Homo sapiens: one gene and its partner. The protein of the gene in region 1 purifies or fractionates together with the protein of each later gene. This does not show direct contact. Each region holds a gene or a part of one and is shown on either strand. Other genes may lie near its edges.

Region 1 (4,096 bases):
CCTTCAAGCATTTCTCCGGCCTTAGCTTCCCGAGTAGCTGGGATTACAGGCGCCCACCACCACGCCCGGCTAATTTTCTTTTGTATTTTTAGTAGAGACGGGGTTTCACTATATATGTTGGCTAGGCTGGTCTCGATCTCCTGACCTAAATTGATCCTCGGCCTCCCAAAGTGTTGGGATTATAGGCGTGCGCCACCTCACCCGGCCTTGTTCCTTGTATTTATTTAATTCTGTGATGATGAATAAACCAAACGATCAGGCTGTCAATGTGCTGTGAGATTAAGGAGAAAAGCAGTAGGCAGCACGTACCCGGTTTTACAAAACCCTGCGGGTCACCTGTTTACTACCGTCAGCCTAGACCGGTTTTTCCACCTCCTTCTGCTGACATTGGAGGACGGGTATCATTCTTTTTGGGGGGTCGTCGTGTGCACTGCAGGGTGCTGAGCGGCATGTCTGGTCTGGACCCACTCGATGCCAGCAGCACCCCGCACTCAAGTTGTGACAACCAAAACCGTGTTTTCAGACATTGCCAAGTTATCCCCTAGGGGGCAAAGTCACCCAGAAGAAGAACCACTGATGTATGCAATTAACAGATGCAACTAAAACAGTATTTGGCTATTAATAGTAATAGCACTTGGGGGGGGGGTCAATAATATCTTTTCATAGTCATTGAATTTAGTTAATTGTTTTGATTTGATTCCAGTTCAGCCCCGAACTGGGTGACCTTGGCCAAGTGACTCAGCCTCTCGGACCCTCGGGATCCTCTTCTGTGAAATGCGGACAGGGGAAGGAGCCTCGCGCGGGACGCTCACGTGCCGTTCCCGCTCCGTCCGCCCGCCTGGGGTGCGGGCGGGTACACTCCCACTCCCCGCAGCGCCCCACGCGGCTCCACCGCTTCCGAGTGAAGAGTTAAAGAGGAAGCGGCAGCCGCGCCTGCGCCCACAGTGCCTAGCCCGGAGCGCCGGTCTCGCAAGCGCGCACGCGCACGCAAGCCCGCACGCGCGCGCACGCACGCACGTGGCTCGGCCCGCGCGCATCCTCCCCTTGCAGGGGCGGGGCCAGCGCAGGGACTCCATTTCCCAGCGTGCCCCGCGGCAACGCCAGGAGCCTCCGAGGAGAAAGGAAAACGCGCGACGGCCCCGACTGCGGCGGCGCGAAATCCGCCTCAGGGACGCACGCACAGACGGAGTACCCCTGGACCCGCCCCCGGAGACCCCGTGCGGGAGCGCGCCCGGGCGTGCGCAGGGGCGGCGGCGCGGCGGCGCGGGGACGCGCGGTGACCGTTGGCGCCGAGGGGAGGAGGCAGCCGCCGCCGCCGCCGCCGCCGCCGCCGCCGCCGCCGCCGCCGTTGCGCAGATCCGGGCCGCGGCTGTGGGGAGGGCGACGGAGCGGGTGACCTTCCGGAGGCGGGAGCGAGCGAGGAGGCCCGGGAGCGCCGAGCGTCGCCGCCGCCGCCGCCATGAACAACTCGGGCGCCGACGAGATCGGGTGAGGACGAGCGGCGCGGGCCTGCGTCTCCGCCCCGAGCCCGGCCCGCCGCTCCCCGCCGCCCGGCCTCAGACGCCGCCCCCCGGGGCCGCCCCGTCAAGGTCACGCCGGCCGGGGGCGGACTCGGGACCCGGACTCGCCGCGGCTTCGCGCCGGGGGCCCTGGACGGGTGCCCGGGGTCTGGGGGGGTCCTGGCGCCCCCGCCGCCGCTTCCCGGCTTCCCGTCCTGGGGGATCCTGAAGGAGAGCCTGAGGGGTCCGGGGGGCCCCGCCGCCGCCTCCAGACTTCCTGGTCGGGGGAACCCCGAACGGCAACCTGGGGGGGTGTCCTGGGGCGCCCGTGCCGCCGCTTCCCGACTGCGCGTCCTGAGGGACCCCGAATGGGAGCCAGAGGGGTTCAGGGGCCCCCGCCGCCGCTTCCTGGTTGTGGCGGCCCCGAACGGGAACTTGGGGGGGTCTGGAGCGTCCCCGTTGCCGCCTGTAGGGCTTCCTGGCCTGGGGGACCCCGAATGAGAACCTGAGGGAGTCTGCGGGGAGTCCAGGGCGCCGTCGCCGCCGCCTCCCGGCTTCCTGGCCAGGGGGACCCCAAACTGTGGCGTGGGGGGTGGTCCGGGGCGCCCCCAGCGCGCGCCCAAACTTGGCGGGCGGCGCACGTGGCGAGCCGAGGCGAGGGTTCCGGTTCTGCCACCGCCCAACCTATCCCACTCGGGGCTCCGGGCTCCCCGCTCCCATCCCACCCCCCCAAAGTGGTAAGGTCGGGAGGGGTTCGCAAACCCAGGGCCCAGGGGGCTCGGGTCAGCCGGGGCCTGCTGTGTTTACGTTGCCTCGGCGCCTCCCCGCCGGGGGTGGGCTTGAGCTGCGGAAGGGAGAGTCAGCGCTTCCGAGGCGGCGACGGGCCCGCGGATCTTTGCTGCGCCGAGGCGTCCCCTCCTATAGGAGCCTGACCTGCTCCGGACCCCGCGGGGCCGGGAAACCTCATTTCGCTGTGCCCCAGGGCTCGGCGCCATTCTTTGGTAGGAGCGGCTCCTGCCGCAGCGACGTCGTTTTAGAGTTGCATTCTTCCGGCAAAACAGTCTGGGTTGGGTTTCCTAGTGGTCTGGTGTAAATTTCTCGGTGCCCTTAGCTTTGAGCAGCGCCCTGTGTTCTCAGCGCTGGGCTTGGCTAGTGCGGGAGCGGTTGCTGCTAGAGGGTTGCCTTGGCAGGCGCCTCTCGCACCAGCTACAGGTCACACTTGTGGATGGGAAATGCCTTTTGTGGGCTCTCCCCCTCCCCAGACAAAACAAAAGAGCACCTTCCGTTGGAGAACCAGGATGAAAGCACTTAGCCCCTGCCTAGCCCGTGCTGTGAGTCCTCTCCAGGCACTTTGACTTGGCAGGGTCCGTGTGCCTGTGTGAGGGACATTGCAGGGATGGGCCTGAGCAGGGAGTCCACCGGCCATGGGGGATGGAGCCATCGACTTTGGGGTGAGGCAGGGAAAGGGCTCCCAGATGGGGTACCTGGATTAGGTCCATTCAAGCCGCGGGTGAACGTGGGCCCGCTCCACCCAAGCCGTGGCTGTGAGGAGGCTGGAGAGAGGTGAGGGCTCCTGTCCCCTCCCTGCATGGACACCCTTGGGAAGTGGGGCAGCTGGGGTCCCAGCCTGGGTCTGGAGGGGTCCCACCCACAGCACAAATAGGCTCGCAGGCCACCCGGACGCCACGGGCTGCGTGGAGGAGAACTGGAGTGCATGGACCCTGCTCTCCTCCCCGGCTGCCAGGAGTGTCCACTGCTTTCTAAGTCAGACTCCTTGGGCAAGAAGTGTTGCCACAGCCGCCCGTCGCATGGGAGACCGGCTTCCATTCTATGCGGAGTCCACGGTCTGCTCTGATCTTGCTGTGTGGAGTTGTTGTGTGCGTGAAATGCTTGTGACCCTGCGAAGCGCCCTCCTGGCAAGTCCCCTGCAGGTGCGGTGGGTGCCATGCAGGAGGGTGCTGAGCTTGGATGGAAGCAGGCCCTCTCTGCGGCAGATGGCGGCTCTCAGGACGCCATGGGTCTGCGGTGTCCCTTACCCACTGGGGGGGCTCGGCAGCCTGAGGAGCTCCCTCTTCCTGATGCAGAGCCCTCACTGCTCACTGCCATGGAGGAGGCAGGAGATCCCGCCGGACCCCGCTTGGAGGGCTGGGCCTGGAGCATGCATGGGTGCGGGGTCAACGCCTCAGGAGACTTGGAGCTTGGGAGCCCCCTGTTCTGGGACACTTGTGGCCGTCCAGCTGCTGCCCTGGGAATCCACACCTGGAAGGTGGGTTAGGGAGCCATCCTTGGGGGAAGCTCTGCTTTTGAGTCTGAGAAGTCGTCCCAAGTTTTGAGGGTCCCTGTGCTGGCTTAGAAGTCCATGTAAAGCTTGATGGGGGATGAAAGTCAGCTGAGGCCTGCCGGTGATAACGGATGCCTTACACACACCGACTTCCAGTCAGCTTGAGGGGGGCTTCATGCAGGAGGAAGCGCATACGTGTGGTGGGGTGTGGGGAGTCCCTCTCTGGATCCTGGTGGGTTTGGCACGCGGACCCTACATGGTGGATGTGATGGACAGTGTCCTCCTTTGGGAGCGGGGCCTGTCCTGGTCCTCTTGT
Region 2 (2,377 bases), on another chromosome or scaffold:
TACAAAGTCATGATGATTCCCTGAGTAACAAAGGGAAATGAAAACTGTTTGTGATCTTCCGTATTCACTGAAAAATAAATGCTTGTTTAGTATCAAATTTTATTTCACGAAAGTTTTTTTAAAGAACAGAAACTTTTCCAATTAAAAAAAAAAAGCAGACTTCTGGTTCAAGATAGCTCACTGGAATACATGTTTACCTCTTTCTTTCCTAAATTGCATTGAATTGATAGGAAGGATGGCGGAATCTTAAAGTGATACATGCTAACTGTAGAAAAAAATAGAAAATGCACATAAGCAAAAGGAAACATTTAAATGCTATCTTTCAAAGATAACTACTCTTAAAACCTTGAGTATCTTTTCAGACCTTTTTCTTGGCAAATGAATCCATATTGACATATTTGATTTTTTTAAAAACATGGAAACGTACTGTTTTGTAAATTCTTTTTAACTGCACATCTACTGTTCATAAATATACCTCTGTAACATAACTTTTTGTGGTTCTAATGTACTCTGTTGTATAGCTAATACAAGTTAGGATGCTTTTGGCCAGAGGTAACAGTGTCCAAATATAATTGGCCTAAGTAACCTAGGAAATTGTTTGACATAACACAGGGTTCAGGGGTGTCATTAAAGACACACTTTTTTTGCCTTGACCTCAGTTGGTTTGTTTTGCCTTAGGCTATTCCACCTCTCGATCACAAGAGCTGCTGCTATAACTTCCAGTTTTACATCTTTGTAAAATTGTATCTCAAAGGCAGAAAAGGCCATTTCGTCTCTCATTTGTTTTATCCATGAGGAAGATTTTTAACAAAAGCCTCCAGAAGATTTCCCCTCAGTTTCCATTGACTTAGATCAGGTTACAGAGAAAGGCAATGTCTGACATTTTTGGTCTCTGTTAGAAGTAGACTCTGTTGAAAAGAAAGAAGCTAAGCTAGGTGTGAAGAATGGAATTGGAAGCCCACTGCCTTCCCATAAGAAAGGTTTACCATAATTTACTCACTTTTTTCTGTGTTAGACATTTTGATTATCTGCAGTTTATTACTACAAGCAGTGGCAGAGTGAATGTCCTTGTACATTTTGAGTTACATGCTTAATTATGTCCTTGAGAAAGTTTCTAAAAGTGGAATGATTGGTTTGACTGGTTCATAGGGCTTTAATTATACAATTTACCCCTCTAATTAGTACTATATGTATGTGACTTCCCTCCCCCTGCCAGAATACTCCTTGGTCAATTGTAGGTATTCTTTTTGGTTTAATTTTTGCCAATGTAATTAAAAAATGGTATGTCATTTTTAAAATTTGTATTTCTTTCATTACAAATAAGATTGTTATGTCAGTATTGTTATTGGCTTTTCGTATTCCTCTTAACGTGAACCGTCTGTTCATTGTTTTTACCTGTTTTCGTTTTAGCAAGTAGTACTTAATTTAAAGTGTGAACTTAATATATAAGATGCCAGGACCATCATATTGATGACAAAAATCTATTATGTGGTTGTAGTGCATGTCTTGGAGTTAAACTCTTAAGTATCAAGAAGTAAAATAATTTCATTGTTTCTGTTACTAACATTAAAAGTGTGCAAATTGTATAAAATTAGGTACTTCGATTAGTAAAAGAAAAAAATTTGAATGTTTTTTTTTTTTATTTTATTAAGCATGCCCAGTTATGCCAAGCATAGTAAATAAAGGTCAAGTAGCATTTATAATAGAGGAAGTATTGTTATCCCTAGCATGAGTGTAATGGTGATATGAAAAACTTTGTCTTGTCATTATAATAATAAAAAAATGAACATTTATTATGGAATTTCTATGAGCCTGACACTGTGTTGGATTTGTGTTTTTTAGTTTTTAGTTTTTCTATTACTTTTAATCAAAGTTTCATGTGTACACAGCTTTAAAAAATTGGATAGATCTGTAAGATTTTTTTCCTAAGGAAAAAGGCCATTACTCTGACTTCTTCCATTTCCTGTCTCCAGGGCAAGCCCTTTCAACTCTTTTAGATGTTATTTTTTTTGTTATTTATTACCATGTCTCCAAATGACATGCTTATATTGCTTTTACTTGATTTTTTAATTTTAGGCATTGTTTCTTTGATTTTCAAAATAAAGCTTCCCTCTTCTGCTTCCCAGCATTACACATTCCCTTTTTATCCCCTTTTCTCCTCCCAACATAACAATTCAATGTTTACATTGTTGACTGTGATTACACTAAGGATATGTGTACATTATTGAGATTATGTAACTGCTGTATACAGCTGAGTGATGTATTATCCTTACCATATACTAATTTCTTATTTCCTTTAGTTAATTGACTGCATAGATTTCTACCATATGTATGAATATCTTCTCTATATGTTCAAACGTAACAATGATTCCATCAG

Evidence for each region. The genes of interacting proteins can lie anywhere in the genome.
Region 2: the proteins of DAZAP1 (region 1) and AASDHPPT fractionate together in Homo sapiens (co-fractionation; one large-scale study listed by BioGRID). This does not show direct contact.

Annotation. Positions count from the first base shown.
Region 1 is NC_000019.10:1,406,315-1,410,410, forward strand, and holds the start of DAZAP1 (DAZ-associated protein 1), read left to right. Parts: upstream 1-1,271; 5' UTR 1,272-1,459; coding exon 1,460-1,488; intron 1,489-1,570; exon of another isoform or gene 1,571-3,307; coding exon of another isoform or gene 3,308-3,765; intron 3,766-4,096. UniProt on the Homo sapiens protein: RNA-binding protein, which may be required during spermatogenesis.
Region 2 is NC_000011.10:106,096,895-106,099,271, forward strand, and holds the end of AASDHPPT (L-aminoadipate-semialdehyde dehydrogenase-phosphopantetheinyl transferase), read left to right. Parts: coding exon 1-13; 3' UTR 14-1,801; downstream 1,802-2,377. UniProt on the Homo sapiens protein: Catalyzes the post-translational modification of target proteins by phosphopantetheine.